2 separate regions of the Homo sapiens genome follow, and region 2 is linked to region 1. The links come from fine-mapping of genetic effects on plasma protein levels. Region 1 holds a variant in brackets. A gene starts in the other region. All regions are shown on their reverse strands.

Region 1 (2,905 bases):
CGGGTGGGTGACAGGTTTCAAGCTCACAAAGGTGATGGTGACGTACAGGGGGCCTCGTGGAGCCAGAGGGGGTGGGGGCATCCAGAAAAGCGCAGGGACCAAACGCTAGCGCGGAAAAGGGAACGCCACTGAGGGCTCTGAGGAAGTCGCACACACACAGTCGGAAAGTCCACATCTGCTCACCTGGTCCTTTGGTGATTTAACTTCACGTGTATAAAAATGATACCTGGTGGATGGATGTGTTACACCTTAGGCTAGAATCTCATCTTTTTCTCTCTCAGAAGAAATTAATTCCTTTTCTGAGTTCTAATTTTTATTTATTTATTTATTTACTTATTATTTTTGAGATGGAGTCTCGCTGTTGCCAGGCTGGAGTGCAGTGGCACAATCTTGGTTCACTGCAGCCTCCGCCTCCCGGGTTCAAGTGATTCTCCTGCCTCAGCCTCCCGAGTAGCTGGGACTACAGCCATACCATGCCCAGCTAAATTTTGTATTTTTAGTAGAGACGGGGTTTCACCATGTTGGCCAGGCTGGTCTCGATCTCTTGACCTCGTGATCCACTCACCTGAATTCTAATTTTTAATTGTTCCTTCTTGTCTTTCAGAGGCTTCCTCCTTGAAGAGTCTACAACAGACCTGATACCATAATTGGGCACACATCCTTCTGAAATTCCTTCTAGAAAATGATTTAATCTACTAAGAAAGCCCACATTTGAATTCATTCATTCCAAAAAGAGTCTCCATCCACTTCCTAGGTTTTGAGCTCTTTTTATGAGTCCATGGAAGCTGCCGTGGTTTTCTCTGAGTCCATGGCCATATTTTCCCTCTGGGTTCTTGTTTCTTTTAAGTCTTATACCTCTATTAGTATTAAAGATCATCAGCTGTGCTTGAGTGTGGTTAAATATTCACTTTCACTTAGACTTCTGACCTAGACACTAACAGCCAACCTTGCTAGATTCATCTAAGTAAAGGGAATGCAACAGGAAAAAAAGCCAATAATTTTTGGTTTCCAGAGTGAAAGAAAAATACTGGGCTGGACATCATGAATCACACCTGTAATCCCAACACTTTGGGAGGCCAAGGCGGACAGATCACTTGAGCCCAGGAGTTTGAGACTAGCTGAACATGGCTAAACCCCATCTCTACAAAAAACACAAAATCTAGTTGGGTGTGGTGGTGTGCACCTGTAGTCCCAGCTGCTCAGGAGGCTGAGGAGGGAGGATTGCTTGAGCCAGAGAGGTGGAGGTTGCAGTGAGCTGAGATCACACCACTGCACTCCAGCCTGGTGACAGAGTGAGATCCTGTCAAGAAATAAATAAACAAACAATATTGGGCCAGGTGCGGTGGCTCACGCCTGTAATCCCAGCACTTTGGGAGGCTGCAGAGGGCGGATCATGAGGCCGGGAGTTTGAGACCAGCCTGGCCAACGTGGTGAAACCCCATCTCTACTAAAAATACAACAATTTAGCCAGGCATGGTGGCGCGTGCCTGTAGTACCAGCTATGTAGGAGGCTGAGGCAGGAGAATCGCTTGAACCCAGGAGGCAGAGATTGCAGTGAGCTGAGATCGCACCACTGCACTCCGGCCTGGGTGACAGAGCGAGACTCCATCTCAAAAACAAACAAACGAACACCAATATAGATTTCTTATATTGGCATCCTGCTAAATACTCTTCACATTCTCTGTTCCCACGTGAAGCCTGGGACTTTGAAGGCATTGCTACTGCTCTGAATTGAAAGCTTCCACTTACAGCTTTCTGCTGGAAAGATCCCCGCCAGCTGCCACCCTT[A/G]GCTGGGAATGGGAGCCTGCTCCTCTGGGTTCAGTGCACCAGCCCTGGATCCGCACTTCCCAGCCCTTCGCTGGCGGTTCAAGACTGTGGTTTTCAGGCTGCTGCAGTGGTGGTCGGCGTCTTCCAGTCACAGCTTGTGATCGGAATCTCTGTCCCTACACTACTTCTGGGTGTACACACCTTCTTCCCTGGGTCTGGAAACCTCTCTCTTGGCTTCGGAGGAATTCACTAGGCACCCACAACCCACCCTCAGTGTCATTAGTCATCACTTGTCACGCAAGTTCTTTGAACGCTGTTAGTGCCAGCTTTTTCTCTCAAGGATCCTTGGCTTCAAACACATTTAAATACCCTCTCCCCTTCATGCCTCTCATTTTCCAAAGCCTTCTTCCCAGGATAGCCCTCTCCTTTGAGTCCCACCTTCAAGATCTTCGCATAATTGAACTTAAAAAATTCCCTCTTTCAGAACACCTTGCTGAATAGACTAGACTAGGCTTCTTTTTATGATTTGAGTATTACAACAATTGAGTGCCTTCCTTTCTGGAAAAGGCTAACAAAGCGAGTTTTTCTAAGGAAAGAAGAGAATGAAAATCGCGTTCTAAACTTTTGTGCACTTCTGATTGCTTGCTTGTGAATCACAGGGAAGCCGTGCAGAGATGGGAAGCCCAACCTCCCTTGCCTGTATCTGGTGACAGGTTCTGTAACAGTTGTCAAAGTGGGGGGAAAAAAACGACAATCGTACAACTCAAGCAAAATACGCTGCTTCACAAATTGTAAAGTCCAAGGACACTGTCAACAGGTCAAATACTGCCCTGCTTGTTTCTATTACAAAAAACTTTTACATACTAAGAGATGATTCCAATTTAAAGCACATTTCTAACTTCTCTGAGCATTTTTTTCTTTAAACATCATTTGTGTTAATTTCATCCCCAATGCACAGATAGAACAGAAGCCAGGTGTGGTGGCTCATGCCTGTAATCCCAGTACTTAGGGTGGCTGAGGCGGGCAGATCACTTCAGGTCAGGAGTTTGAGACCCAGCCTGGCCAACATGGTGAAAGCCCGTCTCCACTAAAAAATACAAAAATTAGCCGGGCGTGGTGGCACATGCCTACAATCCCA
Region 2 (2,853 bases), not on the chromosome of region 1:
CAGTGCATTAAAGATTTAAACCGAAGCCCACCGTACTGACCTCCTGACTCTGCCGCCGCTGTCGCCATTCGAGCCGAGCGCCCCTCCCCACACGGGCTCTGTTCCGTACTGACAGGGCGTCCCTCCCTGGAAGGGTGCCCTTCCACGTCAAAGCCCCTCATCAGTGTCAGGCCTCCTGTTACTATCAATGGCTGTCTCCCCCAATCCCAACCCCCAAAAACCCATACTGTGAGTCGCCTATATGAAGAGAACTAAATAATCCTGCCTGTTACTCCCTTCCTCGGAGCGAGGACTTTGCCAGCTGTCTGAAGAATCTTCTCTGCTGGGAGTATATCTAAAACATTTTAAGCAGAGGTGTAGGATGCAGGCTGTAAATGGTAAGAGGGGGAGATTCCTAGAAGCTGCCTGCCACAGAGGAGCGACTTGGGTTGGCGACCTTTCCTACAGTTCATACCCCAACTTTTGGCTCCTCCAGTCTGATCCCAAGTTTAGAGATCCTTGGCATCAGCCTACCTAGAAGTTCTTGCTCCCTCCCTAGGAGAGTCCAAGGGCCACTGCTCTTTGCCGCCCCCTTCTGTCACCCAATCAGCCTGGGACCCACTAACTCCTCAAGTGGTGAGAATCAGGGACTGCTATGTGGGCCTGCCTTCAGTTAGGGACTGGACCCAGCACCAGAAAGGGCACCACAAGATTAAGTTAAAGAAAGAGATGGCCCAGTTTCTGGCTGGGGCCAAAGCTACAGCAGATTGTGGCTGGGGAGAAGACTTGGTCTTAAAGGGGAGAGATGGGTGCACACCCAAAAGCATTTGTTTTCTGCCTTCCGAAGACTTCTGGACCGACAAGCCCAGGGAAGACCAGAAAGTATGTAGCGCACAGCCAAGTGATGAAGAAGGTCTATGACAAGCCCGAGGAACCTGGGAGATTTCCTTGGGATTTCCTCAGTGGCTACACCCAACAAGCCTTGGGACACAAGAGAAAGGCCTAAGCCCTATCCCAAGAGAAAGCCTACTCCATAGAGAGTGGCTGACCCTACAGCAGACGACTGCAACAAGATAAGGGCTGGATTACTGTGTTATGACTTGGTTTATGTTTCAAATATAGAGCAGGACTTGCAGATTGAGATCCCTGGACCAGGAGTGGGAAATTCTTAAAGGAGCCAGGGGCACTGAACTTGGCAGCATACCCCCACCCTAGGCAGCTCCCAGCTTCCTGGAAAGGACTGGATAAAGATGAATAGGAGCTTTGCATTGCAGGGAGGGGGTAAAGAACGGAGTGACAGCTGGGTATGGGATTAGGAGAGAAGCGGCTATAGCTGGAGGGTGGGATGCAGGGGGTATAGCAGTTGGACATGAGGGTGTGACTGAACCCGGGTAGGGAGAGGGGATGTTCCTCCAGGCCCAGGAAGGAGGCTGGAATTTGAGTAAAACAAAGATGTAATTGAGTGCTTGAGTCCAATGTCTTCAACAAGTCAGGGACTGGATCTGGAGACCCTAGGCCCCTGCTGGCAAGAGGTTGGCATTCCTGGAACAGGACTAGACAAAAACAGGAAGGTAAGATTCACTGGGCCTTTTACCTGTTTTGACAACAGTAACCTAGCACCAAAGAGCTTTTATCTTCCCTCCTTATCTACCCCACCTTTCCTCCCTGTCTCATCATCCTGGGGAAAGCTGCCCCACCTCAGCATCTCCAAAACACCCTTAATATTACCATAAAGGGCCTTCCCCCAGCTTCTCTGAATGGGGCTGGCCTCAGCCAAGAACCCTCCTCAGCCAGAAGGGCCTGCTCTAGGGACCCATTCCCATCCATTTCTTCTGATAAGACAGGCAGGCCAAGCCAGGAAGTGGGGAGGAGAAGGTGAAGGCAAGTTGGTGCTTGCCTGCCCTCTGCTCCCACCCCACCCACAACTCCCCTGTCAGAATCTGTGTGTGCTAGTGTGAATTTGCTTGTGATTGGATGACTGTGAAAACACAATTGGGTGGGAGAGGGACTTTGAGTATAACCGGGGCTATATAATTTTGTCTACGGTTGTCTGATCATGAGTATGACTTTGTGAGGTTGACCAAGTGATTGAGGAGTGACTTTGAATGTGTGGCTATGCGTATTTGAGTGTGAATGTCTATCATTAGATGCTGCTGTGGATGCTTGACTGCCCTTACTCACTGTTCCATCAGTCCCTACATCACACACTAATCCTTCCCCCAGCTTCACTGCCCAGAGCTTAGGAGCACATGGGAAATGGCTATCCTAGATGAGGAAGGAGTCTGTGGCAACAGGCCGAGAATTAGGGCCCAGGAGTGTCACAGGTTACACAGTACATCTCCAACTGCCTCTGACTCACCTAGTGCCCCAGGTAAAAGGCACCCAGATAAAAGGTAGGGGAGGAGGAGAGAGAGAGAAGGAAGAGTCTAGGCTGAGCAACATGAAGGGGCCCCCAACCTTCTGCAGCCTCCTGCTGCTGTCATTGCTCCTGAGCCCAGACCCTACAGCAGGTGAGTACTTGGGGGTATAGAAAGCTGGGGGTCTGGGTGAATGGGATGAAGTTGAAAAGACCCAGGAAATCCAACCTAACCTCCAGCTGTCTGGCAGAGAGGTTCTTGGTCAGGATCCCTCTGAACACATGGCCCTGTTGCCCCTAGCATTCCTACTGCCACCCAGCACTGCCTGCTGTACTCAGCTCTACCGAAAGCCACTCTCAGACAAGCTACTGAGGAAGGTCATCCAGGTGGAACTGCAGGAGGCTGACGGGGACTGTCACCTCCAGGCTTTCGTGTGAGCTCCCACCCCTGATACCCCTGACTCTGACCTCAGTCCCAACCCCTAATGCTGATCCCAACCCCAGCCCTAACTGCTAAT

Which allele goes with the higher level. Alleles are on the strand shown, and positions count from the first base shown. The strength of an association depends on the size of the effect and on how common the allele is.
For the plasma level of the protein whose gene starts at base 2,396 in region 2, A is the high allele of the variant in region 1 and G is the other (strong association).

Evidence for each region. PIP is the chance, under the fine-mapping model, that this variant and not a neighbour inherited with it causes the effect. The UK Biobank Pharma Proteomics Project read protein levels with antibody pairs (Olink). The fine-mapping took linkage between variants from a reference panel, not from the people measured, so its PIPs are less certain.
Region 2: CCL27 starts here. The variant in region 1 is fine-mapped to the plasma level of the CCL27 protein (UK Biobank, PIP above 0.99).

What each region holds. Positions count from the first base shown.
Region 1 is chr22:46,159,022-46,161,926 of GRCh38, reverse strand. All of the region lies in intron 2 of PPARA (peroxisome proliferator activated receptor alpha), which reads right to left. LOC105373074 (a long non-coding RNA gene) reads left to right here. Exons shown (of 2, transcript XR_938315.3): 2 at 605-885. Among named protein-coding and RNA genes, the nearest start is that of PPARA, 9.9 kb to the right of the region's middle. The variant A/G (reference allele first, on the strand shown) is at 1,789.
Region 2 is chr9:34,662,200-34,665,052 of GRCh38, reverse strand. CCL27 (C-C motif chemokine ligand 27) reads left to right here and starts at 2,396. Exons shown (of 3, transcript NM_006664.4): 1 at 2,396-2,489; 2 at 2,637-2,769. The coding sequence starts at 2,420. LOC730098 reads left to right here. Exons shown (of 3, transcript NM_001320038.2): 3 at 1-890. The coding sequence ends at 19.